3 separate regions of the Homo sapiens genome follow, and regions 1 and 3 are each linked to region 2. Evidence: fine-mapped expression QTL. A gene starts in region 2. Each other region holds a variant in brackets. All regions are shown on one strand. Distances are between the middles of the regions.

What was found. PIP is the estimated chance that this variant, and not a neighbour inherited with it, causes the effect.
Region 1: its variant is the best candidate, but not a certain one, in a credible set for the expression of RASGEF1C in thyroid (GTEx, PIP 0.60).
Region 3: its variant is the best candidate, but not a certain one, in a credible set for the expression of RASGEF1C in tibial nerve (GTEx, PIP 0.89).

Annotation. Positions count from the first base shown.
Region 1 is chr5:180,123,293-180,133,100 of GRCh38, reverse strand. RASGEF1C (RasGEF domain family member 1C) reads left to right here. Exons shown (of 14, transcript NM_175062.4): 5 at 4,491-4,691; 6 at 5,418-5,492. Among named protein-coding and RNA genes, the nearest start is that of RNF130, 56 kb to the right of the region's middle. RefSeq lists silencers at 5,782-5,851, 5,922-5,971, 6,198-6,492. The variant G/A (reference allele first, on the strand shown) is at 5,499.
Region 2 is chr5:180,203,827-180,213,634 of GRCh38, reverse strand. It overlaps RASGEF1C (RasGEF domain family member 1C), which reads left to right and starts at 4,424. Exons shown (of 14, transcript NM_175062.4): 1 at 4,424-4,607. RefSeq lists a silencer at 4,289-4,508 and an enhancer at 5,633-6,425.
Region 3 is chr5:180,136,979-180,146,541 of GRCh38, reverse strand. It overlaps RASGEF1C (RasGEF domain family member 1C), which reads left to right. Exons shown (of 14, transcript NM_175062.4): 2 at 8,484-8,666; 3 at 8,830-8,952. The coding sequence starts at 8,490. Among named protein-coding and RNA genes, the nearest start is that of RASGEF1C, 67 kb to the left of the region's middle. RefSeq lists an enhancer at 8,994-9,493. The variant A/G (reference allele first, on the strand shown) is at 7,110.

The DNA of each region.
Region 1 (9,808 bases), 81 kb after region 2:
TGAAGGAGGCTCAGGGAGCCAGGGAGGACCCCAGTGCTCTGGCCATACCCACTGGGCCGGCCACAGAGGAGGCCGACTCAACAGGCAGCCCCTCTCCGAGGACTGGTCTTGCTTTTTTTTTTTTTTTTTTTCTGAGACGGAGTCTCTCTCTGTCACCCAGGCTGGAGTACAGTGGCGTGATTTGGCTCACTGCCACCACCACCTCCTGGGTTCAAGCAATTCTCCTACCTCAGCCTTCTGAGTAGCTGGGATTACAGGCGTGCGCCACCACGCCCAGCTAATTTTTGTGTTTTTAGTAGAGACAGGGTTTCACTATGTTGGCCAGGCTTGTCTCGAACTCCTGACCTCGTGATCTGCCCGCCTCGGCCTCCCAAAGTGCTGGGATTACAGGCATGAGCCACCGCGCCCGGCCTGGTCTTGCTTTCTAACTCGCCCACACGGACTGTCTGGGGAACTGACCACTGCCCTGTGAGGCTCCCTCTGTGGCAGAGGTGGCAGAAAGCTGACATAGAGGACAAACCAATGGAGGGAGCAGACCCCTAGGAGCCTCACGAGCTCCTGCGTCGGCTTTCTGCCACCTCTGCCTGTTATTCAGTAGGCAGGAGGACATCAGCCCTAGGCTGGCTCAGGAGGGAGTCTCCTAGAATTTCAGAGAACAAAGGCCAGTGCTCATCTAGCCTCACCTGGTCAGGGACAGGGGTTCCAGCTGTGAAATGCCCAGTCCAAGAGAGCTTGGAGGCACCTGGAGAGCCGTGGCTGCCGCCCAGGCCACCGTCGGACGACTCCGCATTCACACCCGGCTCTATGCACGCAGCAGATGGCTTGTGGAAATAGAAGGAAACGTGGCTCCAGACCACCCAGCCTCCCGGGCAGCCTCCCAACTATGATCAGTGCGGAGAGAGGGCTTCAGCCCGAGGCAGGAGGGGCAAAGTGCTGCTCCACCCCAGCACGGCCTGGTGCTTCATAAACATGGACCCACGATAGTGACGAGGGGATGCCTTGACATGCTCGGTGGTTCAGGTCTCTGGCCCTGCCCTTATCTACCAGCGAGATCTCCAAGCTCCTATCCACGAGTGTGGAGAAATCAGTGAGAAAATGAGAGGAGGCCAAGGAGCAGGGCAGATAGCATAACCACACTCAGAGGGGGCATAGAAGAGTCAGGAAAGAACAAACAAGCTAGAACCTAACATCACTGGAAAAATCGAAATAAATTAGCAAGCAGGAAAGGATGATTATTTGGAATGAATATTGGTTCATTCAACAGTAACAAATCTTGCTAAAGTATCTGTGTTTTTAAAAAATAAGGCAATCTCGTGGCCCTATCAAGGGGTAGGCACAGACACCCTGCAGCCTTGATTTTGGCACGGGCCTGCAGTCCGCCCTGACACCCTGCTGGAGAGAGCGTCTGACTGTCAGCAGGTGAAGGCGGTGTTTATCCACGCATTCAGCAGACGCTGGTGGACACCTCCTGTGAGCCAGCTACGGCCCTTCATGAACACAGGGCAGCCCGCAGTTGGCTGTGTGGAGCTTGTGGTCCAGGGAGAGGAGATGCACGTGAACAGAATCATTTCCCTGACAGCTCTAAAAGTGGTGTGGCAGAAGGGCTCACAGCACTGAACACCAATGGCCCATCTGGGGAAACAGCACTTGAGCTTCGGTCCAGTGGATGAGGAGAACGTGCCAGAAGGGAGAAAGCTGTCCAGATCCTGCCGGGGACATGGGGAGTGGGGACATGGGGAGGGTGGGAAGGAGTCAAAGGGGCGGAGGAGTGACCTGTGTCCAGAGCACAGAAGGGGAGCAAGGGCGCATAGAGGCCACCAAGCCTGGCCAGAGCTGACCTCGGAGCCTCAGAGTCACGCCAGGGCTCCTATCTTTGCACAAGCCATGGAGGCATTTTCAGGAACAGGGAGGCAGCGATCAGATTTGCATTTTGAACAGACCTCTGTGGCTGCAGGGTGGAGAGAAACCGGCGTGGATGCATTGGGGGCATTAAGAAGGCCAGTGCAGCAGAGAGATGACAGTGGCCTGGGCTCCAGAGACAGTGGTGGGATGCGCAGAAATAGAAGAAAATGAACTAGAGAGGGGTGGTGATGGCCTAGAGGGGCATGAGGGAGAGGGCGGGGTCGAGGATGGCACCAAGCCTGTGTGTCTGGTGGCCGACGCGCTATCCACCAACACTGGGAATACCAGCTTTGGACAAGGAGAGTCGACCTCCATTTGCTGTGCTGGGCAAACAGAGGACCATGGGCCATATGACGGACCGCCGCCCATATGACTCTGGAGATCAGAGGGAGACTGCAGGTGTGAAGCAGAACAGCCAGGAGCTAAGTAAGAGTGAGAAGAGAGGCCTAGACAGAGCAGGAAGAACCCCGAACCCCAGCATCTCACGACAGTGAACACAGGCAAGCCTGCAGACAGCCCAAGGCAGGAGCAACCAGGAGGCTGAGGCGGAGGTGGCCAAGGAAGACGCAGCCTGAGAAACGGCCACTGGCTTTGGTGACAGGAGGGCCCAACGAATTGACTGATGGGAGTGGCAGCCAGGTGAAGTGATTCAGGAGTGAGTGGGGGTGAGGAGACGAAACAGCAGGTGTAGCCACTCGTGGGACTCTGGCTTTGCCTGGGAGAGAGACAGGAGGTCCGTGGAAGGGCCAGGGCCCACAGGGGACTGACCGTGCCCCTCAAGGCTGGCAGTGGCTGCGCCCCACTCCCCATCTTCCCAGCACTCAGATGAAGCCCTGGGAGGCAGTGTGCCGACCACAGTTTTGGACACAGCCTTCCTGAGAGGGGTCGTTCCTTCCATGGGCCCCCTGCCCCCTACCCCGCAGAGGAAGCAGGCCACTTCAATTACCCAGCGTGGAGCCTAGTTTCCCTGGCCTCTGCTCCCAACAGTACTCATCCAGGTCACCCTATGCGACTTCTTTGATAGGACCACCGTCGAGACAATGGGGTCATTTCCTCCCACACTAGAATAACAGCTCCACAGGGCTGCAAGGTCTGTGCTGCCGCCGCTGTGCTATGAGAGCCCAGCCCTGCTCTGGGCACACAGTGGGTGCGCAGTAAGTGCTCACCCCCACCAGCCAGCTCAGACGCACGGGCTCTTGCTTTGGGCCACATCATGGGCTGGGTACAGGGATGAAAGGCCGTGGCCACCCCTCAGGGGCACCTCCTCTCCCACCGTCAAGGAAAACCTAATTATTTCCCCTCGGAAACCCCTATTTCCAAGGAAGTGCCATCAGACTGGCTGGGTTTGTTAAGGTAGACATCCTCATGTCCTCAAGGGGTTTGGTCTAACTCAGAGTGAGATGCAACCCCCTACAGCCAGGAGCCGGCCTGGGCACTGGCAGAGGCAGTGGTGGGAGCTGGAGCCTGGTCCCCAGCGATGGCGCACCTTGACTGGACAGGCTGCTGCTCCCAGAGGCCTCGGGAAATAACGAAGGGTGGCAGTCGGCATCATCAGGTCACTTCAGAGATTGCAGGGAGTTTTCCTTCATGCGATTTTGAGACACACAGAGCCTGCAGTGAGCGGTGGGCAGGTGTGGCATCTGCATGCTGGCTGTGAGGGTCTGGGGGCTCCGATTGCTCTGGGGGGGCCTCAGCCAGGGCCCTGGGGTGCTGCTACTGTCTGAGGACGCTGGAGCCCTGTGCTCTGGTGGCGGGGTTGGGAGTCGTCTGGCACTCCTATGGCAGTGGGCAGCTGTGGCAGAGCCTCAGATGGGAGGAATGGGACAGGACGTGGCTTAACCCTAAGCCTAACTCTCAGAGCACGGGCCAGGTGCAGAAGGCGCCCACTGGTTAGCCGGGCAGTTGTCCGACTCTTCTATCTGTTGCCCATGGAAGGAACGACCCCTCTAAGGAAGGCTGTGTCCAAAACTGTGGTCGGCACACTGCCTCCCAGGGCTTCATCTGAGTGCTGGGAAGATGGGGAGTGGGGCGCAGCCACTGCCAGCCCTGGGGGGCACAGTCAGTCCCCCGTGGGCCCTGGCCCTTCCACTGACCTCCTGTCTCTCTCCCAGACAACAGCACAGCTGGTCGGGGAAGGCCGAGCTGGGCCTGGGAGATAACAGAGGCCCCATTAAAGCCAAGCCAAATGCCAGTCGTCTGCCCAGGGCAGGGCCCATGCCATGTCTCCCGCCTCTCTCCCTTTCTCTGGCTTCCTGGCCGTGCCCACCCCACTCTACCCCACTGCCCCAGACAGCTGCCCCCGGCCCCCGTCACCCTCCCTGATGTGTGCTCCTCTTGGCTCCCACCCACAGATGGGAAGCCCTGCAGCCTTCACCCCAGATCCCTTGCCAGGTGGCCCCACCCTGGCCGGGATTGGGTCCTGTTTCAGGGTAGGGGCAGGTCCTGGCCCCTGCGCTGGTACCTGGCCTTTTCTCCAGAGACCCTGAGGAAAAGACCCTCCCTTTGGAGCCCAGGTGGCTGCCTGGTTCCAGTGTTAGAGATGCAGAGATGAGTGTTCAGTCCTGAGCGCCCTTCTTTCCACCCACCAGGCATACCGGAAGAGGATGCATCAGCTCCTACAGGCTCTGCACCAGAAGCTGGCGGCTCTGCGCCAGGGGCCAGAAGGTCTGGTGGGTGCCGACAAGCCCATCTCCTACAGGACCAAGCCACCAGCCTCCATCCACAGGGAGCTCCTTGGTGTCTGCAGCGACCCCTACACACTGGCCCAGCAGCTGACCCACGTGGAACTGGTAAGCCGGCCCAAACCACCTTCCTCACCCGGGATTCAGCAGGACACACACAGATACACTGTGCCCTCCCTGGCTTCCCAGAGCAGCCCCACAAGCTTGTGAAGGAGGCCCTGGCCTAGCCTCGAGCATGCACTGGGCCCCTTGTGGATGCAGAGGCCAAGGGCCCACCCCAGGGAGAGGGAGGCTGGGGCGGGTTCTTCCCTTTGAGACTGAGGGTTGATGGCGACCTCCCTGCTCTCCAGGCACTCTTCAGCGCGCTCCCGTGCGCTCGCTCATGTCTCCATCACCTGGCCAGGCAGGCCCTGTACACAGAGGAAACTAAGGCCCAGAAAGGTGAAGCGACTTGCCAAAGTCACACAGCAGAAGGGACAGAGCCAGGGTTTGATTCTGACCCAGATGCCATGCTCCTAGCCACCAGCCCCTCCACCCCGCAGAGGAAGCAGGCCACTTCAGTTACCCAGCGTGGAGCCTGGCTTCCCTGGGCGTCACGCCTCATAGCATTGCTCCCTGCCCCCATGAACCGGGAAAGGAGGGGCTGCCTCCTCCAGGGAAGGCGCTGAGCTCTGTGACAACCTAAAACAGGGTCTCCAAGCCCCAGTGGGGAGGGCAGTTGCAGAGTGACTGTTGTGAGGAGGACTAGGGGCTGGGGCACCACGGCAGGCCCCCCAGTGGACACCCCCTCCCCATACCTTCCCTCTTTTACCCACTCTTCACCCTTCCCTGCAGGAGCGGCTGCGGCACATCGGGCCTGAGGAGTTTGTCCAGGCCTTTGTGAACAAGGACCCTCTGGCCAGCACAAAGGTAGGA[G/A]GCTCTTACGGGCTGTCCCAAAAGTGAGCCTCACCCAGTGACTGGCCGCTCTCCGGGGAGCCCGCGAGCCTTCTCTGGGCGAGCGCTGGAGTGGCCCAGAGTGGGACAGGTGGGCTCGGGGGGCCCTGCCCACTCCGCCACGCCCCTCCAGCTCGGGGGCGCACCACGACAACCGAGTCCCGAGTCCCCGGAAAGCCTGGACGTGCGGGACGTGGGGGTCACCCACCCAGCGAGGGAGGAGGAGTGGGCCAGGAACCAGGCCGTGGGCCGCGCTGCTCGGGTGGGCCAGGACCCTGGGCAGGGAGGAGGGTGGAGGGCCCCCTGGCGCGCTCCGGGACCCCGTGCGCCTTCCCGGTGCGTTTCGGTGGGCGCCGGTGCCCTCCAGCGGCCACGCGGGGAAGCGCGGGTTGCTGCCCGCTGCCCGGGATGGGTAAGGGAACTCCTGGGTCCCGGTGCTCAGGACACAGCCCACGCACCCGGATTTCGATCCCGCCCTTCTGGGAGCCCAACCAGCAGGGTGCCGGTGCCTCCCACGGGCTAAATCCAAGCCAGAATTGCAAACATTGTGCCTTCTGCCCTCACACCTAATAAAAGTACAAACTATGAGATTGCATTTTTCACTTCTCAGATAAGCAAAAATCACCTAGTAGGTTAGACACATTGTGGAAGACACACTCCACGTGGCTGCTGGGGTGAAGCTGGCGCAGCCACTTTGGAGGGGAGACTGGCACTAGCATCGACGCTCTAAATGGACTTTCTTGACCCCAATTTTCCATACCTACGAATTTATCCCACAGATACACACCCATGTACACGAACATGCACGGACGAAGATATTTGGGATAGACAATGTTTATTATGGCCAAACACTGGGGGCAGATTGCCTTGTCACCCATGGGGACTGGATTACAAATTATGAAACGTCTATAACTAGAATGGTGTGCAGCTGTGAAAGGGAATAAGGTGGACAGAACAACCTCCAAGACCTATCCCTCCAGGCACTGAGAGAAAACGGTAGAGGGAAGAGCAGGGGCGAGAGTGTGTGACCATTTGGGTAACAAAAAAAGAGGGTAACACAAAACCATGTATGTTGCCTGTGTCCGTCAGCACTCTCTAGGAATGCTGACTGCTCTGGGAATTCGGAACAACTGTGGTGCTGGGAGGCAGGAACGGGAGGGAGATTTTTTTTCTTTTTTTGAGACGGATCTCACTCTGTCGCCCAGGCTGGAGTGCAGGGGCGCGGTCTCCGCTCACTGCAAGCTCCGCCTCCCGGGTTCACACCGTTCTCCTGCCTCAGCCTCCCCAATAGCTGGGACTACAGGCGCCCACCACAACACCCGGCTAATTTTTTGTATTTTTAGTAGAGACAGGGTTTCACCGTGTAAGCCATGATGGTCTCGATCTCCTGACCTTGTGATCTGCCCGCCTCGGCCTCCCAAAGTGCTGGGATTACAGGCGTGAGCTACCGCGCCCGGCCGAGATTCTTGTAAGATTTTTTGTTTGGTTTGGGGCCATTTCCAAATATTACTTTTTTATTGTGAAATACATCAAGACGACACATGACATTTGTTTTATCCCCCTACTGTAGATGAACATTTGTGTGTCCAGCTTTTTGCTGTTATAAATATTCCCACAGTGGACATTCTTACACCCGCTGGTATACACGAGTGCACACTTTCTGTAGGGTGTCCGTTCTCAAAAGGCTCAGGATCCCTTTATACTCTTAAAAATTATTAAGGACCCCAATTAACTTTTGGTTATATGGATTATATTTATCAATATTTATATTAGCAATTAAGATTAGCTTTTTTTTTTTGAGATGGAGTCTCACTCACTTTTGTCACCCAGGCTGGAGTGCAGTGGTGCGATCTCGGCTCATTGCAACCTCCACCTCCCGGGTTCAAGCGATTCTCCTGCCTCAGCCTCCCGAGTAGCTGGGATTACAGGCATGCGCCACCACGCCTGGCTAATTTTGTATTTTTAGTAGAGACAAGGGTTCTCCATGTTGGTCAGGCTGGTCTCGAACTCCCGACCTCAGGTGATCCACCCGCCTTGGACTCCCAAAGTGCTGGGATTACAGGCATGAACCACCACGCCCGGCCTGACTAACTTATTGTGCTAACTTGCACCTCTGGTACAATGTCAAATAGAAGTATTGATAGCTGGCATCCTTATTTTATCCTGATTTTCAAAGGAATGCTTTTAACGTGTTGTCCCAATAGAGTATGATGTTTGCTACAGGATTTCTTGAGATGTCTATTATCAGCTTAAGGAAGTATCCTGTTCCTTCCTAGTTTTCTCAGAATTCTCATCATGAATGGTTGTTAAATTTCATTTATTTTTTCTGGATCTGTTACTCACATATTCTCTTCTCCTTTAAACTGTTAGCTGATTGTTTATATTAGTTTTTAAAATAAATGTTTCTTTTGTTTGTTTTGGGTTTTTTGTTGTTGTTGTTGTTGGTATTTTTGAGACAGAGTCTTGCTCTTTTTCCCAGGCTGGAGTACAGTGATGTGAACACAGCTCACTGCAGCCTCAACCTCCCGGGCTCAAGTGATCCTCCTGCCTCAGCCCCCCAAGTAGCTGGGACTACAGGCACATGCCTCCATACCTGGCTAATTTTGGTATTTTTTGTGGAGACAGGGTTTCTCCATGTTTGCCCAGACTGGTCTAGAACTCCTGAGCTCAAGAGATCTGCTTGCATTGGCTTCCCAAAGTGCTGGGATTACAGGTGTGAGCCACCTCACCTGGCCTAGTTTTTTATTGCTGTTGTTGTTTGAGACGGAGTTTTGCACTTGTTGCCCAGGCTGGAGTGCAATAGCACGATCTTCGCTCACTACAACGTCCGCCTCCTGGATTCAAGAGATTCTCCTGCCTCAGCCTTCCAAATAGCTAGGATTACAGGTGCCCACCACCAAGCTCAGCTATTTTTGTATTTTTAGTAGAGATAGGATTTCACCATGTTGGTCAGGCTGTTCCCGAACTCCCGACCTCAAGTGATCCACCCTCCTCGGCCTCCCAAAGTGCTGGGATTACAGGCGTGAGCCACTGCGCCAGGCTGTTTTTTTAATCAATGTTGAACCAACTTTGCATTTCTGAGATAAACGAAACTGGGATAAATGAAATCATTATCTTTTTCACACTTCCCTGGATTTGGTTTGCTAATGTTTTAGGATTTCTGCAACTATAATCGTCAGTGAGACTGAACTGTTATTTCCCCTTCTGATACTGTTCTTGTGTAGTCTTTGTTTCTCTTACCCTGATCTCTATTCTTCCTGAAAGACTGGAATTACTTGTTCTTGGAGCATTTTGTAGAATTAGCCAGTGGAACCATCTAGGCTTGGTATTTTCTTTTTCTTTTTTTTTTTTTTGAGACAGAGTCTCGCTCTGTCGCCCAGGCTGGAGTGCAGTGGCGCTATCTCGGCTCACTGCGAGCTCTGCCTCCTGGGTTCATGCCATTCTCCTGCCTCAGCCTCCCGAGTATTTTCTTTGAGGGATGACTTTCGTGTACTGATTCAAGGTTATTCTTGTTTGTTTGTTTGTTTCGTTGTTTATTCTTGTTATTAATTTAATGGTTTTAGGACTATTTAGGTTTTATGTTTCTTCTTTAGTCTGTTTTGTAATTTATATTTTCCTAGGAATTTGGCCATTTCCCCTAAGTTTCCAAATTTATAGACATACAATTATTTGTAATATTCTCTAGGTATCTTTTTAATTTCTTCACATCTACATTGATCCATCTCTAGTATTTTGATTATTTACACCTCTCTTTGTTTCTTTATCAATCTTATCCGAGGTTCATCAATTTTATTAATGTTTTCAAATAAAGATCTTTTGACTTTGTTGATTCTGTAGATTGCAGTTTTTTTTACTATTTCATTTCTTTCTTCTCTACTCTTTATTATTTCCTTCCATCTACTTTCTTTGGATTTATACTGTTATTCTTTTTCTAGTTTCTTATGTTGGATGTTCAGCTTGTTTTTATCCTTCTTTTCTAATAAAAGCATGAAAGATGGTTGATTTCTTTTTACATAAATTTTTATTTACAGCCTCCAAGTTTTATTTTTTAACATTTTCATTATCATTCTAATTCCATTATGATTTCATCTTTGAAACATAGATTATTTCAAAAAATTTTTTAAGTTTCTGAACATTTGAAAAGAATGCGTATTCTCAAGTAGTTAAGTTCAAGTTTCCGTGTTTGTTTATTGCTTCAAATTGTGTTGCTGAGATTCATATTCATCCTGGGTTGCGTTTTGTTTTTCTTTTTCAATCTCCCTAAGCTACTAGTTACCGTCATGTGTGTTAAA
Region 2 (9,808 bases):
TATATACACACACGTGCACAAAACAGCGCTACATACACAAGCATACAACACACACACATTACACACATGTGCTGCATACACATGCATAGAACACACCACACATTCACACAAGTGCACATACACATACTGCATATACCATGCATGCACACATGTGCAAATCCATATACACACACACACCCTCTCTCTTGCTCCTCCCAGCCCAGGCTCAGTGGGTTGGCAGCCCTGGACTGTAAAGGATCATTAAATGTGGCCCCCTCCCGTGGCTGACTATAGGATGACTTCTCCTGGAGCTCTGCCCTTGCAGTAACTTTGGAGGGTTTTCACCAGACCAAGAATGGACGAGTTACGGGTCGGCTAATAAAATGCTTTGGCCAGAGCCCAAAGTTCTGTCCTCAGTGTTTCCTGATTTTATTGGTGAACTTGCTCAGCAGCCTTGCCCGGTGCCCCTTCCCTGAGTCACGTGCTGTGGCTGTGCCAAGCATCCCGGGCAGACGTACTGCAGGGCCTCACAGGCTCCTGCTCTGCGTAAGCGCCTGCAGCTGCTGGAGCCCGTGCTGTCCTTCCTTCCTCCCTGAGGACCCGCACCAGGCAGGCACCCGCAGGCCCCGCTGCCTCCAGACCTCCTCCACATGCCCCTGGCCCCACAGTCCCAGCAGGTGCTGTCTGCTGTGAAGGGGCTCCTCGCCCTCCTGGGAAAGGTACCCCATTCATCCTGCCAGGACCCCTGCCATCGCTGTCACTTCTCACACATTCTCCTATCTCCCATCATCCAGTCCTGTGGCTTCTCCCCCAGAAACAGCCCTCAGGTCTGCCCCATTCCCTGCCCCCTGCCCAGGTCTGTACTCATCAGCTCTCCCCTGCCTGCCAACTCCTCGTGGGCCTGCTGCCTGTCCCTCGTGGCCACACCCAGTGAACAAGGACTCCAGCCCCACTAACCCAGTGCTGCGTTGGTGGGGCACACTCAGGTCTCCCAGAGTCACACGTGTGCAGGATGTGCCATCCAGGCCAGGGGCAGCTACGCAGGGGCTGAAGGTGCTGGGAAAGGCCTCATGGGTGTCAGGACCCCTACATCTGGGGACAGCACCACCCCCTCCTGCTGGGGGTGCTGCTGGCAGAGCTGCAGCCACACCTGCCCCTGTGTCGACACCCAGAGGACAGGATCCAGCTCCTTGCCCACCTGGACACCCTGCCTGGCCCTGTTCCCTTCCACCTTGGCTCCAGCCTCTTTTTTGCAAAAACAATGCAAAGTCCATGCCAGCCACAGGGCCTCGCCCTTGCTATTCTCTCTGCCCACGGTGCTTTTCCCAGACCCTGTATGGCCAGTGCCTTGTCTGATGTGCCTGGAGAGGCCCTTCCTGGGCCCTCCCTTCTAAAGCAGCCCCACCGCACTCAACCACCTCCCCAGTATGGCTTCCTTCATGGCGCTCGGCGCTCTCCGAAATGATTGTTTTTACTCTTTTGTTTGTATGGTTAGTTTTCAGCCTCCCTTCTCTAAACCATGAGTTCCAGGGGGCAGGAACCCCATGTCGGGCTCTCTGCTATATTCCCAGCACCCAGCATGGTGCCCGGCACACATAGGCCCTAGGTAAGTGTCCACCCAATAGATGTCTCAGGGCAGTGGTGGGGTGAGGGGAGACTGAGTTGACGGCCCTAGGGATGGCTCACCCTCTGTCCCAATGCCCTCACTCAGGGATTAGCCCCGGGGCACGTTCTGGAGTGAGAAGTTGGGTGGGCAGGGTAGGGGCTGGGCAGGAGAGGTTCCTTGCTAGAGGGCACTCCTGGGTGGGCTATGAGGGGGCGGGAGCAGATACCTCCCAGGGCCCAGTGGTGGCACCTGCAGCCAGGGTCCCACAAAGCTGGAGGCTCAGGGCAGAACTCCACGCTGGCCGCGAGGCTCAAAAACCTTCCTGGTGTTGCATGAGCCGCGACTGCAGCTCATGCGTCTTCCTCAGCACAGGCCCAACTCTCGGCAGCGATGGGTCTGGCAGGGAGAGGACGCAGGAGACCTCAGGGGACACGGTCTTCTCCTTTGTCCCAGAGCAAAGCTCTGCCACCCTCACCCCTGTGGGACACGGAGCTGTGGCCATGAGCTAGTCCACACCCATGTTCCAGTTGCCCTGGCCTCATCCAAGCATCCCCTACCCTGCTCCCAGCAGGGCAATCATGCTTCAGTGGCCCCAGCCACTTGCTGGAGAAAGTTCTTTATCAGGGGACAGCAGCCTTTGCTCACAGAGCAAGGGTGAGCTGGGGAAAGACTGGCCTCACCACCCTGACCTGCACTTGGTTAGGAGGGCCGCTCAGTGCTGCCCAGACCCCAGAACAACACAGCTGAGTGGGTCAGCTCTTCTGAGGTGCCTCTTGCGGCCTCTCCTCCTAGACTCCTGGCTTCCTCCAGGCGACACCCTGGGACTGGACCTGAGGCTTAGGGGCATAGGGTGATAATCGGAGAAGATGCAGGGAGGGCCCAGTGCCTGCACCCTGAGGCGCATCTGTCTATCTGCTGGGAGCACACTGCTCACCCCTGACCAAGTGCCTGCCTCTGTTCCTCCTCCCTTTCCCCACACCTGACCCTTGGTCTCAGATGTCACCCTCCCTAGGGCCAGCCTCTGGCCCTGGCCCTGGCCCCAGCCCTGCTGTCTCCCTGCCTAGCTACCTGGCCCACATTCATTCTAATACATCTGTATGCCCTAGGCAGCTGCCTGCTCTCTCCAGGACTCAGTTTCCCTAACTGTTCAAGAAATGGGCTGGACTGTTGTTCTTAACCTGTCCATTCTTCCAGGAACAGCCTTCACGGAAGCTTGGAACAGCACCTTACTCCATCCTCAAAGCTGACACAGGACTAACTCTGCCTCAGCTCTAGTGAGACGACACCCAGGCCTGCTATTCCTGCTCCCTAGGTCTTTGGAAATGGCCTGAGCTCAGCTCCTCGGAGCCTGTGTGTGGCAGCCGCAGGCTGTCCTTGCAACTATCAGGCAGCTGTGCCCTCTCTGAGGTGTCAACCCAGGGCCATTCTGCCACAGAAAGACTGGGAGATAGGGGAGGCCAGTTTCTATGCACATAGGTTAAGTACCTGGATCTAGCCATTCCTCTAAGCAGTAAACCTTGGCTTTTTATGATCCACAAACCAGCTTTTTGCTCAAGCTGGTTGGGTTGAGTTTTGGGCCACATCTCATCAGGCAGGTCCTGACTAAAGCAGAGTGAGGTGAAGGCAGCTGGAACTTCCGTGTCGGGTGGGGACTTGGAGAACTTTTCTGGCTAGCTAGAGGATTGTAAATGCACCAATCAGCACTCTGTAAAAACGCACCAATCAGCACTCCGTGAAACGGACCAATCAGCAGGACATGGGTGGGGACAAATAAGGGAATAAAAGCTGCCCGCCCACCCCTCGCCAGCCAGCAACAGCGGCGACCGGCTGTGGTCTTTTTCCCTGCTGTGGAAGCTTTGTTCTCTTGCTCTTCACAAGACATTTTGCTGCTACGCACTCTTTGGGTCTGCACCACCTTTTTCTTTTCTTTTCTTTTTTTTTTTTTTTGAGATGGAGTCTTGCTCTGTCGCCCAGGCTACAGTGCAGTGGTGCAATCTCTGCTCACTGCAAGCTCCACCTCCCCGGGTTCACGCCCTTCTCCTGCCTCAGCCTCCCGAATAGCTGGGACCACAAGCGCCCACCACCAAACCTGGCTAATTTTTTTGTATTTTTAGTACAGACAGGGTTTCACCGTCGCACCACCTTTAAGAGCTGTAACACTCACTGCCAAGGTCCCTGGCTCATTCTTGAAGTCAGCCAGACCAGGAACCCAGCGGAAGGGACAAACTGCGGACACAGGAGGACAGGTGTCCTGACCTCTATGCTGGGACCAACCAGGGAACTTTTCACTGAAGACCCAGTTCAAGGAGGCCACTGGATCCTGTTAGAGCCCCTCTCCCTTTCTAAAAGTGAAATCATGCATCGCCATCCTCCCAGAACCCCGGTGTCTTCAAAGTGGTGTCCACCCTCCCTGGGGGCCACGGGAGAGCGCCGAGAAGGTTGGGGAGGGGGGGTGTCCACCCAGGGATGTCCCATTGGGGGACACAGACAACCTAGGTGGCCAGTCCAGAGAACCGGGCCGGGCCCAGTCTTGAGGAGAGAGGGTGAACTGGGTTTTGGGGCGCCAGAGGCCCACCAGGTGAGGTGTAGGCTGGGGCAGCTGGGGCGCAGAGTCCGCCAGGGTCCGCGCGCGGGAGGGCAGCGTCTGACGGCCCGAGCGGGTGGTCCTGGCGCGGGGGGCCAGCCGCCGCGGAGGCCTGAACGCAGGGCGGGACGCTTGGCTCCGCGGCCGGGGCACGGAGGGCCCTGGTGTGCAGCGCCGCCCGCGGGCTCCCGCAGCTCCACCCCCGCGCCCCGCCCGCTCCGCGCTGCCTGAGTGCCACGAGGGGGCGCAGCGCCGCGTTGCTCCGGGGCCGCCGCCAGGCGCTCGTGCGGGCTGCGCTGGGAGCCGGGCGGTCGGGCGGCGGCGGCGGCGGCGGCGGCGGCGGCGGCGGCGGCGGGCGGCGCCCCGGTCCGCGGCGCCGAGGCTCGCACCGGGAGCTGCCCATGGGCCGGGCCCGGAGTTCCGGCGCGCCGGGAGCCGGTGAGTGGTGCGCGGCCGAGGGACACCTGGCGGTGCGGGCAAGGGCGCGGGCTCGCGGGGGCTGGGGAGGGCTGCCGGCGGCGCGGCGGGGTCGGCGGGAGGCGGGAGGCTGCGCGCGGCGCGGGAGCGTGCGCCGGGGTCAGCAGGGGCGGGGTCCGCGCGGCCGCCGGGACTGGAGGCGCGGGGGTAGCGGGTAGGGTACCCTGAGGGCACACCCCCGGCCACCTGGCGGGAGACCCAGCTCTGCCGCGCGCCGCCAGCCCCTGCTGGGCGCGAGGAGCAAGCTTCTTTCAGCCGCTAGAGTGGCAGGAAGAGCCAGCCTAGACCAAAGCCTCCACCCGCACCGGACCTCAGTTTCCCCGTCTATGAAATGGGGACGGGAAAGCAGACCTGCCGGTGCACGTGCAGAAGGGAAAGGGCCTTGCGCCTGGGGGAAGAGGGTGCTGTCACCCTTGAGGATGGGATCGGATTTGAGGAAAGGACCAGCGCCACTATCAGAGGGCCTGCGAGAACAGTGGGGTCTGCTGGGAGTCCTGGGTGTGTCCCTCACGCAGTGACAGCGGACGGCATCAAGGGACCACCTGGTCCACTCATTGTATTTAGATTGGGAAAGCGATGCTTGGGGGGACTTGGGGAAGGGTGCTGGCGACGCCGCCCCATGCTCAGCGTGGGCGTGGGAAACTGTGGGAAAGACAGAGCTGGGAAGTTGGGGTGCTGGTGGAGCTCTTCCGGGCCCGTATCTCCTGCCTCCTGGGGCTGTGGGAGAGACAGAAGTTCTGAGCCCCGGGAGCCTGAGAAGAGTCCTGGGAAGCTCTGCCTGCCAGGCAGGTGGAGTAACTGAGGTTTAGAGAGGGGCGGGACCATGGAGTGGCAACGCTGGGGTCCCACCTCTGGTAAGACTGGCTCCAACAGCCATAGTGCAGCCACTGTGCAGGCGACCGGTGGAGGGGGGCTAGGGTTGTCCACTCACTGGCCACATTCATTGAGCGCCTACTGTGTGCCGCCTGCTGCCTGCCCCCGTAAGTGCTCACTAGCTGGTGTGGGAGGGGACACCAAACAAGAAATCAAAGGCAAAAGCAAGGACATGGCCAAGATCTTATGCGTGCTGGGAAGAACATGCAGTAGGGTGACTGGGGCAGAGGGAGACCAGGGCGCGGCGGAGCCTTCGTCTGGTCAGGGAGGCTGTCCTGAGCGGGGAGCCCAGCCTGTGATGGACGGGTAGCCCGGGGGAACAGCGCGGGTGAGATCCCTGAGGGCAGGAGGGGGCGGAGCTGGAGCTGAGACGCTACAGGGTCTGGACGTCCTGGGCAGCCCCCAGGCGGTTTGCAGGTTGGGCGTCGAAAGGCTGCCCGTGGCGGCGGGTGGGCGCACTGCCGGGGCAGGAGAGGGAGGGCAGGCGAGAGAGGGACGGGCTGCGGAGCCCAGGGCGGGACTGGCGAGGGGGAGCCCGCAGGCCACCAGGTAGAGGTGGGGCCCTGCCCGGGACCTGGCCCTTTTCAGGCCGGGGTCTGCACCCTCCTGCCATGTCCCCGCCAGTCTCTGAGGTGGTTCCAGCTCTCACTTGTACCTGGACCCAGATCCAGAGTCAGCCATTTGTCCAAGGGGCCTTGGTTCCTTGCGTGGGACCCGGGCTTAGTGTGGGGCGTGCACTCGCCGCCTCTAGGCCTTGTCAGTGGACCAAGCCAAGGCCCCTTTTTTACTAAAAATTAATATTTCCTTTCCCTTTCTCCTGCAGTGAGAACCTTATTCCCCCAAACATGAATATATTTCATCATTTACTTAGCTCCACAATGCACCCCGAAAGAGTTTCAGAATGACTGCATCCACACCGAAGCCAACCAAAACCTGCTAGGTCAGCATCGGGATTTCCACGGGTGTGCAGGCAGAGTGCTGTGTGGTGACGTTATCAGTCGGACACACTGTTAGCTTCGTGTGTTTCTACTTGCATTCAATTTGGAGCTTTTTTTCCTTTAGACTTTAGGATGTAATTTTATTTTTTGAATACGTAAAACACATGGTTTAAAGGTCAGAACTATTAAAAAGCTATCCTTAAAGGTCTCAGTCCCACCCCTGCATCTTCTTCCTTGTTCCCACACCATTGGGAGCCATTTAAAATATTTTCTGGTTTATCCTTCCTGTGTCTCTTTCTGCAAAACAAGTCATTTAAGCATTATCACAAAAGTTAGCCGTACAGCTCCTGGTTTTTCTTCAGTTAGAAGTATGTCCTGAAAGTAACTTCTTACCAGTTCATGGAGACCTGGCTCATTCTTTTTTACACTCACATAGTATTTCGTTCTGTGGCTGTACTATTATTGTTTATTCAAATTATGTCCTCTGGATGAACAATTTTGTTTTTTTCCAAGTCTTTTTAAATTTAAAATAATGGAGTAATGGATAACTTTGCACCTATATTGTTAATGTTTGCAAAGGTGTATATTTAGAACACACTTCTAGAAGTAGGAGTGAATGTGGATTTATTTTGTTAGCTAGTCCCAAATTCCTTGTCAAGAGGTAGCACCGTTTTGCATTCCCACCACCGATGTATCACAGTGTCTTCTGTTTCCCCACAGCCTCGCTGGTTTGAGAGCTGAGAAACAGTATTTCAGTGTATTTTAAATTTATATTTCTATTATTATAAATGAAATTGGACATCTTTTCACATAGATTTGGAATCATACTTAGACTTTTCTAACTATGAAAAGCCCAATTATAAAGCAATCATCTGTGTTTTCTAATATTTGTTTAGTTGTGTACTTAGTCTCTGCATCCAATTTAATCTTTTTCTAAGTGTCTGGCACTCTGTCCCAAAGCCATTTATTTAAAAGGTCATCTTTCCTCCAGTGATCTGAAATGCACCTTTCTCATACACTAAAAATCCAAGCCCTGGGCCTGTTTCTGGGCTTTCTAGTGTGTCTCACAGGTCTGTCTGTTCCATCTGTTCACATACTGGTGAAAGAGAGAGAGAGAGAAAAAATATATTTAAAGGCAAGGAGGGCCTGGCACAGTGGCTCACGCCTGTAATCCCAGCACTTGGGAAGGCTGAGGCAGGCAGATCACTTGAGGTCAGGAGTTTGAAACCAGCCTGGCCAACATGGTGAAACCTTGTCTCTACCAAAATATATAAAAAATTACCCGGGAATGGTGGCACATGCCTGTAATCCCAGCTACTTGGGAGGCTGAGGCATGAGAATCGCCTGAACCTGGGAGGCAGATTTTGCAGTGAGCTGAGCTGAGATTGTACCCCTGCACTCCAGCCTGGGCAACAGAGTGAGACTCTGTCTCAAAATAATAATAATAATAATAATAATAATATTATAATAATGGCAAAGAGGACTTTATTCAAGACCATTGCAATAGAGGAGAGAGATTGGGCTCAACTCTCCTTGTTGTGTTTTAACATGTGGTGGGCAAGTTCCTTCCATCGCTTTTTACTGCAAGGATTTCCTGGCTGTTGCAGCACGTTGCTGCTGTTCGGGCGGGGAAGGAGAGCGTATTAAGTTTATATTAGGCTTGTATATTAACTTTAGGATAATTGGCATCTTTATGAAGTTGAGTTATCTTATCCAAAACTGAGAGATGTCTTTCTGTTTGTCAAGACTACTTCTAGGAGTGTTTTGAAATTTTCCTCATATATGTTTTTCCTATTTCTTATGAAGTTTATTCATGAGTATTTTTATCTTGTGTGTTGCTACTATAAATGGTTTTTTCTTCAATTATATCTTTGAATTGGCTACTGTTTCGTGTATGTTATTTTATATCTTTCTGTCTTACCTGAATTTTTATTGTTAGTTTTATTGTTAGTCTTTTTTTTTGTTTTTATTTATTTATTTATTTATTTTGAGACGGAGTCTCGCTCTGTCACCCAGGCTGGAATGCAGTAGCGTGATCTCTGCTCACCACAACCTCCACCTTCCAGGTTCAAGTGATTCTCGTGCCTTAGCTTCCCAGGTAGCTAAGATTACAGGTGCCTGCCACCACGTCAGGCTAATTTTTGTATTTTTAGTAGAGACGGGGTTTTGCCATCTTGGCCAGGCTGATCTCGAACTCCTGACTTCAGATGATCTGCCATCTCAGCCTCCCAAAGTGCTGGGATTACAGGCATGAGCCACCATTACCGGCCTGTTGTTAGTCATATCTTTGATTCTGTTAGTCATTCTGTCATCTACAAATTCAAATAGCTTTACTGCTTCTCTACTGATTTTTATGCTTTCTTTTATCTAATTAAATTGGCTGAATACCTCCAATTCAGTATTAAATATTGGATGTGGTGGGCCTCCTTACCTTGTTCCTGACCTTAGTAAAAAGGCCTCTAATACTTCCCCTATTAAGAAAGATGCTGACTTTAGGATGGGAAGAGATAGATAGATGAGATAGATAGATAGATAGATAGATAGATAGATAGATAGATAGAGGAATATCCATTGACTCCTATTTTATTGGCAGTTTTAAAAATCAGGATTGGTGTTGACCTTTGTTAGAGCCATGTATGTAGATAATGATCTGATATTTCTCCTGATTACTAGTAGCATAATGAGTCATGTGATGGATTTCCCAATATCAGGTCTGGGACTAGGCTGAGGTAAACAGACACAAAACGTATGAATATTAACACTAGGCCATCTTTGCATTTCTGAAATAAGTCCCACTTGGACATGATGTAGAAAATAGTTTGGCAGTTTCTTTAAAATTTAAACATAAAAATACCATATGACCCAACAGTCCCACTCCCAGGAATCTAAGAGAAATGAAAACAATGAAATGTCCACACAAAGACTTGTACACAAATGCTCATAACAGCATTGCTTATAATGGCCAGAAAAGTAGAGACAACGCAGTTGTTCATCAACTGGTGAATAAATAAACAAGATATATATCCGTACGATGGAATATAGTTTAGCAATTACAGTTGGCCCTTGAACAATGAGAAGGTTAGGGATGCTGACCCCCACACAGTCAAAAAGCTATGTATAACTTTTGTCTTCCCCCAGATTTCACTTTGTTGTTGTTGTTGTTGTTGTTTGTTTGTTTGTTTTTTGAGACAGAGTCTCACTCTGTCGCCCAGGCTAGAGTGCAGTGGCATGATCTCGGCTCACTCCAACCTCTGCCTCCCAGGTTCAAGCGACTCTCCTGCCTCAGCCTCCCAAGTGGCTGGGATTACAGGCGTGCACCACCATGCCCGGTTAAGTTATATTTTTGGTAGA
Region 3 (9,563 bases), 67 kb after region 2:
AAATTCAATGCCCTTTCATGACAAAAAAAAAAAGTACTCCAAAAACTGGAATAGAAGGAAACTACCTCAACATAATAAAAGTCACATATGAAAAACACATAGCTGGCCAAGCACAGTGGCTCATGCCTGTAATCCCAACACTTTGAACGGATCACTTGAGCTCAGGAGTTGGAAACCAGCCTGCGCAACATGGTGAAACCGTGTTAAAAGTACCAAAATACAAAATACAAAATGAGCCGGGTGTGGTGGCATGCACCTGTAGTCCCAGCTATTCATGAGGCTGAGACAGGAGAATCACTTGAACCTGGGAGGCAGAGGTTGCAGTGAGTCAAGATTGTGCCACTGCACTCCAGCCTGGGTGACAGAGCCAGACTCCATCTCAAAAAAACATTGGGGGAAAGCTTCATGATATTGGATTGGGCAGTGACTTTTTGGATATGATACCAAAGACACAGGCAACAAAAGACAAAAATAGACGAATTGGACTTCATCAAAATGGAAAACATTTGTGCCTCAAAGGACACTATCAACAAAGTAAAAAGATAACCTACCGAATAGGAGAAGATATTTACAAATCACATAGCTAATAAGGGATTGATATCCAGACTATCTAACAAACTCCTAAAACTCAAAAACAAACAAATCCCAAACAACTCAATTCAAAAATGGGTAAAAGAGGACTCTTGGGGCTAGCTGCCTCATGCCCCTGCAGAGGTCCCAGCAGCAGCCATGCTCGAAGCGTGAGCTCCAGTTCTGTGGGGCTTCTCCTCTGATCTGGGTCTTGAAACGCCACGGCTTCTCTTTTGTTCCTTAAATCTCAGGGGTGGGGTAATTACATCCTGTCACGGAACCAATTCTATGAATTAAATTTTCTTTGCTTGAAAAAAGTGGGGAAAAGTCTTGAACAGGCATTTTTCTAAAGAATATATACAAATGGCAAATGAAAAGATGCTCAAGATCACTGATATTTAGGGAAATGCAAATCCAAACCACAATGAGATACCACTTCCCACCCATTAGGATGGCCATTATCAAAAAAGCAGAAAACAACAAGCATTGTCAAGGATGTGGAGAAATTGGAACCCTTTACATTGCTGTTGGTAATTTTAAATGGTGCAGCGGGCCGGGCACGGTGGCTCACGCCTGTAATCCCAGCACTTTGGGAGGCTGAGGCGGGCAGATCACCTAAGGTCAGGAGTTTAAGACCAGCCTGGCCAACATGGTGAAACCCCATCTCTACTAAAACAAAAATTAGCCGGACACGGTGGTGGCACATGCCTGTAATCCCAGCTTCTTGAGAGGCTGAGGCAGGAGAATCGCTTGAACCCGGGAGGCAGAGGTTGCAGTGAGCTGAGATTGCACCACGGCACTCCAGCCTGGGTGACAGAGTGAGACCGTCTCAAAATAAAAATTAAAATAAAAATAAATAAAATGGTGCAGCTGCTGTGGAAAACAGTATGGTAAAGGGGGAAACAACCCCCACTGCCCACTGACAGATGAATAGATGAACAAAATATGGTATGTGCATGCAGTGGAACAGTATTCAGCCTTAAAAAGGAAGGAAATTCTGACGCATGTTACAACAGTGGTGCACCTTGACAAAGATGAATGAAATACGCCAGTCACTGAAGGACAAATGTTTTATGATTCCACTTATATAAGGTACCCAGAATGGTAAAAATACATAGAATGTAGAACTGTGGTTACCAGGGGCTGGGGAAGGAGAGGAGGAGAAATTGGGGAGTTAGTGTTTACTGGGTACAGGGTTTCAATTGATGATGAAAAACTTCTGTGGACGGACGGTGGTGATGCTTGTGCAACAGTGTGAATGTACTTAATGCCACTGAACTTTACACGGTAAATTTATGTTAAGTATATTTTTTTAATTTTTATTTTTTTGGTAGAGGCAGGGTCTTGCTCTGTCACCCAGGCTGGAGTGCAGTGGTGCAGTCACAGCTCACTGCAGCCTTGAATTCCTGGGCTCAAGCAATCCTCCCATCTCAGCCTCCCAAGTAGCTCGGACTACAGGTGTGTGACATTACGTCAACCTAATTTTTAAAAACTTTTTCTAGAGATGAGGGTCTCACTGTGTTGCCCAGGCTGGTCTCAAACTCTTGAGAATGTGTAAATGTGTAAAATTCTGCACATATTCAAGCAAGGGCAGAAAGGGCTCTGATTTGGGGCCGTGGACCCACCACAGCCTTTGAGGCTAAAGCAGTGGGACCATTTCCAGCAGCTGTTGGGACGTGGTTTCAGCTGCAGGGCTGGATGGGCAGGTAGAGGGTCGCCCCAGCTGCAGCCAGCACAGAAGCCATGGGGAACCATGGCGGTGCAGTTGGCAAGTCTTTTTGGCACACACAGAGCCTTGGTTAACAGCAGTTGCTGCCTGTGTTGTGGTCTGGCCCTAGCAGGTGGCGAGCTCCCCGTGGCGAGTGCTGGCCTTGGGGGTCCTTTCTCCACAGCAGGCACTGTGCGAGGTACTTCGTGCACCAGTCTCCATAACCTGAAGAGGGGGACTGCTCCCTCTTCTCAGAGCTCACAGGTGTCTTCCTGAGACACGCGCGTGGTCCTCACAGGGGCCTTCGGGAGCCTTCTTTACCTCTGTCCCTTCTGCCACACCTGGCCCAGGGAGAACATCCCTCCAGCCCCCAGGACGCGCTCTGACCAGCCACCTGCTTTTCTTCTGCAAGTTCGATGGATTTCCATTTTGCAGATGTTTAATGCCAGCCACCCATGCTGAGGGATGTGGGGACCCCAGCAGGAACAGGGTCTGTAAACTGACCACCTTGGCACTACAGATGTCATTTCTAACTGTGCTTTAACTCACTGTGTGGCCCCATCAGTGGCTTTTTAAAAAAATAGAATTAATTGCCACCCTTACAATCACAATATGAAACGTAAGTCAGGAGTCCTGGATGTCCTGGATGACTTTTACACCAGGAAGGTCTGAGCACGCCAGCTCCCAGAGCACAGCAGAGCTTGTGGGTTTTCACTGGTACAGCCGGCCCACCTTCTGCCAGCCCCACGCTGAGGAGGAACAGCAGGGCCCTTGGGCACGTTTTCAACTGGCTGGGGGCAGGTGACCATTACCTCTTTCCAGCACCCACTGGAATAGCAGGAGAATGCACATCCATCTTCAGGGCTGGCCTTCCTTATAAACGCACCACATGGTGCCCCTGTCCCTGCACACATTTCCCGTCTCCCATAGAGGGGTTGGGCTGGGGCCATGCTGTCCCAGAAACTTTGCCAGCGCCAGCGGCCTGGAGCAGGGTGGGCCCTGAGCCTGTCAGTGAGGCCTCCAGAAGGAAGGATGCCCAGCTGGGTGCTGGCAGGCATCAGAGTGCCCCCCTGCAGGGTGGCACGTGGGATCCTGTCCCCTGTCTGCCTGTCTCTCTGCAGACCTGACCCCACACAATCCTCGCCTGCTGTCTCTTGAACTGCTGCAGGAGCCCCAGGACCTCCAGGTGCAGGGCCTGGAGACACACACAAGGAGAGATGCCTGAGGGGCTGGGGGCCAGGCAGTGGGACAGGAGCCATGGAGAGGGAAACCGAGGCAGAAGCTCATGCCTCAGCCACTTGGGGCTGTGTGCCAGAGCCAGGCATTTCCTCTCAGTGTCCTGTCAGTGCCCTTGCCACAGCGGGGGCACGTGCCCCCAGCCTCACCATTCCAGGCCTGGAATCAGTTCAGGTGTTCCCAGAGCCATCCTCTGATGAGTGGACTTCAGCTTGGACGAATGACTCTAAAACGATGGGGTGCGAGGAGGGCACAGCAGCGACTCATTTCTCAGGGCCTCACTGCAGTCTTCATCCACGTGAATGTCATTCCCACCATCCGCACCTTTCTCTCCTGCTGTTTTCCCCTCCTTGTGCCACACTGTTTTCTGTGTTATGACCGTGTGTTCAGAACCATCACTGCAGCGGCCACAGCCACTCCGCCAGTGCGTCTGTGCACCTCCCCGTCCATGCTCCCTTTGTTTGCCATCTGTGCTGCTCGAGAGTGTTCGCTGCTGGGATTTAATGCTGAAGCAAGGGCCTTTCTTTCCACAGCTTGTCCCCTTTATTTTCTCAGGATACATTTCCAAGGCTTTGATTAGGATGAAAGGACGCTATAGAACATAACGCTCTTGGTACATTGAGCCAAATCTTGGTACAATTAAAGGGACCATGACAACGCATACCACCCCTCCCCGCAGTGGTGTGTAAGGGGCTGCCCTTGCATGCCTGCCAGCACTGGGCATTTAATTAAGTCTCATTCATTTCATGGGTAGGAAGCGGAACCCCACGGGAGCAGCCACACCGTGCATATATCTAGTTCACACACACCGAGCCCCACGTCCCAACGAGGCAGACAGAGGGAGAAATGGAAAGGTCTCTCTACAGGGTACGAGCAGAACGTTCCCCATCCATGCTGAGCCCCTCATGCTGACAGCCCATCTATGCAGCCCCCAAGACTCCCAGCCCCTTTGTCACGTGCATCATTCAGGCCACGTGCACAAAACACAGATGGGAGACTTAACAGTGATTTCAAGACTTCTGAGAGATATTGTAACAATAAACAATTGTCCCATCATCACTGCCTTTTTTAAAAAGTGTGATATGAGGTCAGGAGATCGAGACCATCCTGGCTAACATGGTGAAACCCCGTCTCTACCAAAAATACAAAAATTAGCTGAGTGTGGTGGTGGGCACCTGTAATCCCAGCTACTTGGGAGGCTGAGGCACGAGAATCCCTTGAACCTGGGAGGTGGAGACTGCAGTGAGCAAAGATCGTGCCACTACACTCCAGCCTGGTGAGACTCTGTTTAAAAAAAAAAAAAAAAAAGTGTGATAAAATACACATAACATAAAATGTATCATTTTAACCCTTTTTAAGTGACAGTTCAGTGACATTAAGTACCTTCATATCGTGGTGGAACTGTCACCTCCATCCCTCTCCAGAAATCTTTTCTTCTTCACAAGTGACACTCTGTTCTCCTGTCCCACCCCCAGCCCCTGGCACTCGCCGTCCCACCGTCTGCCTCTGTGAACGTGATGACTGTAGGTGCCTCCACAAGTGGGGTCACTCAGTGTTTGTGCTTCTGTGTCAGGCTCATTTCACTTAGCATGACGTCCTCAAGGTCATCCGTGTTGCCGCAGGCTCAGAACCTCCTTCCTCTCTGAGGCTGACTCCTGCCCCACTGTGTGGAGAGGCGTTTTCTCCATCCATTCGTCACTGATGGACGCTTGGGCTGCTGCCTCATTTCTTTTTAAAAATTATTTGTGGACATCCAAACAATGGAATATTGTGAGGCAATTTTTATAAAAATGAATGAGGCAGCCCTGCCCTGCCATGGAAAGGTCCTCAAAACGCATTGTTAGTGAAGAAAGCCCAGTGCGGGGGAGTGTGGACAGTATGCTACCTTTTTGTGTAATACAGACAGAAAAGGGGTTATGTGTTTACATGTCCTTGTCTTTGCGTAAAGAAGCTACAGAAAGACTAGAAACTAATAAAAGCGTCACTTACAGGTGGAGCGAGGGACCCTCGTTACATGGCTGTTTTTGCACACAAGGAACGTGATGCTCTGATCACTCTGCACACTCCCTGACCCCAACTCAGTCACTCCCCACTACACTTCCAGGAGCCACTGCCTGGCTCCTGACACCTAAGCATATACTCCCATGATCACACCACGTTGCCCCCCGCTCCGCCGAGCCTCTGCACATGCTGGTCAGTCTGTCTGGCATGTCTCTCTGCCGATTGCATCCTGCCGTCAGCCCTCAGTGCAGCCACCCTCACCCAGCCCATTCCAGGCAGGCTGGAGCTCCTGCTGGAGGGAGGAGGAGCTGGCTGTCCCTGGCGGATGGAGGAGCAGCAGTGTCCTCTGTGTCCCCAGCTGTCCTCATGCAGAGGCCAGAGGTGGGCACCTGGCCTGTCTGCACCAGCACGCCTGCAGGGAGGGGTGGGAGTGGTGGGGGAGCCCGCTGGTAGCAGCAGCTCTGACCTCACCTTCTCTTAGGGGCCAGGACATCCACCGCAGTGAGCACAGAGAGTGGTCACCCCCTTTCCCTCACAGCACGCCTCCCGTGGGGCAGTCTCTGCACAGCTCTGCCTCCCTTACCAGCTCCCTGAGGTCGGGCTTTGTCCCCATTGCCTGGAATGGAGCCAGGAGTCACCCCATGCATACACGCATGAATGGATGACCCTTGGCAACCACAGGAAAAAACTGAAGGCTGCGGCACAAGGATAAGCCCATTCATTGAGACCCAGACCTGGACCCAGCTGGTGATACGATGGGTGATTGGAGGTCGGAGGACCACTGGCAGCCCAGCCCCTCTCTGGGCATCCCTGTGGGTCACAATAGTTCAGCAACCACCACCACCCCTGGCTCCAGCGAGAGCTAGTCGCTCCAGAGCAGAGCTGGATCTGAACACTGCTCCCACCTCCCATGTGCCCAGCACCTGGGTCCAGGCCAGGCCCCAGGTCCCCTGGGAGCCTCCTGGCTGTCTCTTTAAAGTGGCAGCCTCCTGGCCTCCTTCAGAAAGGCCCCTGCATGGCACCTCCCACCATCCTGCAGAGGCTTCCAGAGCCACCTCCACCCTTGCCACTGGCTTGTCAAGAAAATGGGGCTGGGATCTGGGGCAGGCCCAGCGTTGCAGGGTGAACAGGTGCCAGGTGTCCAGCAGGAGACAACGGACCTCCCAGGCTCACAGGTTTTCTATCTTGTGGAATCAGGCTGAGCTGCCGGGCCCTGGGCAGGAGGCAGAGCAGCGTGCACCCTGCAGCCGGCCCATCCCGCAGCTGTCCCCCTCCCACTGAGCATGTGCAGCTTCCTGCATGCCCACCTGCTCAGCCGCCTCCCCCTGGGACAGACAGGAGGTGATTTTGTGAAATTTTACGGTTTCATTGGCTGAAAATTGAACACTTACAGCATTGTCAGGGAGGCGAAAATAAGCTGTCTGTCACCATGGCCAGGACTGTCTGGGCTGCTGTCCACACCAATGCCTGAGCCCTTCCCATGCTGTAACCCAGTCCCAGCACCTCCCACACCCACATGGCCACGGGACAGCCCTCTGAGGGGCTCCCTCTGATCCCCAGTGTCAGCTCTGACCCACCACGTCCCTCTGTCTCT[A/G]CTCCCAGGGCAGGGTCACTCAGAGTGCTGCAAAGGAGAAATAGGCCAGGGTCAGGGTTTGCCATCGGGGCAGCAAGGACGGCATGAGCAGGGGAGCCTCAGAGTCCATAGAAGACCCTGCAGTGAGCTGGCAGGACTCCACGATCAAGAATGTAGGGGCTGTCTAAACAGTCACAGGTTTAGCCAGGATGCGTCACTGTGAGGGCTCCTGGGCTTTCAAGGAAGACTGGCCTAGAGGGGTAAGTGGAAGAGCTTCTGAGAGTAAGCATGGGCTCCCTGCAGGTGGGTATGGACACCTGCTGCTGCCAGGCCCGTCACTCAGAGCAGGGTCACAGAGGATGTGCTCTGGCCTCTGCCTGGAGGTTTGGGTAGAGAAGACACTGTAACGGCTGCAGCTGGCCTTTCCCTGTGCCAGGTACTGACAGCAGCACCCAGGCACCCAACAAGGCTGACAAGCAGAATCTGCTGATGCCCACCAGAGGTCAGGTGCAGCCTTGGTGGGACGCAGGGAAGGCTTCACCGAGGACGAGGCATTTCAGCCATACCTGGAGGGATAGGGGAGTGAAGATGGTGGGAGAGCCTTCCTGCAGGAGGGAACGGCATGTGCAGTGGTTCAGAGTTGGAGAAGGCATTTGGAGGAGAGAACGTGGCTGGTGCCAAGAGCAATGGGGTGTGATAGGCGGTGAGGATGGACAGGTCAGCTAGTCCAAATCACAAAGAGCCCAGAATGCCAGGTTAAGGAGGACAGCAGTTTTGACTGTACCTGAGAGAACCCCAACTTAAAGAGGCACATGTGATGGAGAAGTCCATGGAGCAGCTTCTGTGCTCAGCACAGCGACACTGTGCTCAGGAATGTGCCCACTTTCCTGCCACAATGGCCCCAGTAGCGTCGGGCATACATTCCACCAGCTCAAGGACTCCAGGGGGAAAGAAAGCCTCCAAGTGCCACATAAGTTCTGGGATTGCAGCTGAGCCCCCCTAATTTGGATGGGGCCAATCCCTGAACCAATCTTTGTGGCCAGAAGCAGGGGGATTAGGCTGATTATCCAGGCTTGTGAAAAACAACCTTCGTGGAGGGGTGCCGGGGGGAAGAATCTAGAAGAGGCCTGCCCCTGAGTGGGGCAAGAGGAGTAGACAAGAGATGGGTCCTGCAGGAGAGTTGAGAGGCCATGAGAAGACGGAGAATGAAGGCTGTGCTGTGAGGAAGGGGCCCTGACAATACTCCCAGGAAGTGACCACTGGACTCAAGCTGGCACAAAGTGGCTGTGGGGGGAGCCTGCCCAGCCAGGAGCCCCGGGACCAGCAGCTCCCACTCAGGTGCACCCAACTCAGGTGTGCCCCCACTCAGGTCCTCACTGCTCCTTGCCATTGCAGGCAGACATGCCACAGACGCTGAGTGCCTCCGACATGGTCACCCCAGGCAGCCTCAGCCCACCCCCCACCGAGCCCACAGATGGCGAACAGGCTGGGCAGCCCCTCCTGGATGGAGCGCCATCCTCAGCCTCCCTGGAAACACTGATCCAGCACCTGGTGCCCACAGCCGACTACTACCCCGAGGTGGGTGATCCACCCAGCGGGCAGGAGAGTGGGCTCTCCTCCACCACGCACGGGGGGCATCAGGGTTGGGCGTGACCTTGGGCCAGGGTACAGGGCCAGCTGGGAAGCATGCCCCTCCTGGTGCCCTCCTGAGCCTGTGCCCTCTTTCTCGTGTGTCCCCCAGAAAGCCTACATCTTCACCTTCCTGCTGAGCTCTCGCCTCTTCATCGAGCCCCGGGAGCTCCTGGCCCGGGTCTGCCACCTGTGCATCGAGCAGCAGCAGCTGGACAAGCCGGTGCTGGACAAGGTGAGGCGGAGGGCAGGCCAGGGGGTCTCAGAGTGTACCAGCACTGCCCTGCCATGCCCTCAACGCATCAGCCTCTCGGGGAGGCAATGATTGTCCCCGTTTTCCTGACAAGGTGGCTACCGGGTGTTTCCACCTTGTCTGAGGCCCAGAGCCAGAAGGAGCAGAACAGGACCTTTAACCTCCATGTAGTTTTCCAGTGCCCGACGGGAACCCTTGAGCCCATTAAGCCCAGACCTGAGTATCCGGAGCCCGGTCAGTAGGACCCATCTGTGGCCGGGAGGGCCTGCTGCCTCTGGTGGGCTTCCTTCCCCCAGCACATCCGCTCCACCTTCCCAGTCCTGGCCGGGTCCTGCGGGCTGCCTCTATTGCACACGCGTCGGTAGGGCTCTACCGCTAGTGGGAGAGACCCAACTTCAACCCGCCTGAACCAAAAGGACTTAGCTGGCCCGTGTACCTGCCCTATCTCAGGGACCGCTGGCTCGGGCCTCACACCACAGCACTGCACCGTGGCCTGTCTCCCTCCCGCCCTCTGCTGCCGCTTCCCGGGGCTGGCCTCCCTCGGGCTGGCTGGTGTGGCGCTTGGCCGCCTCCACCGCACCAGGCTCACCTAC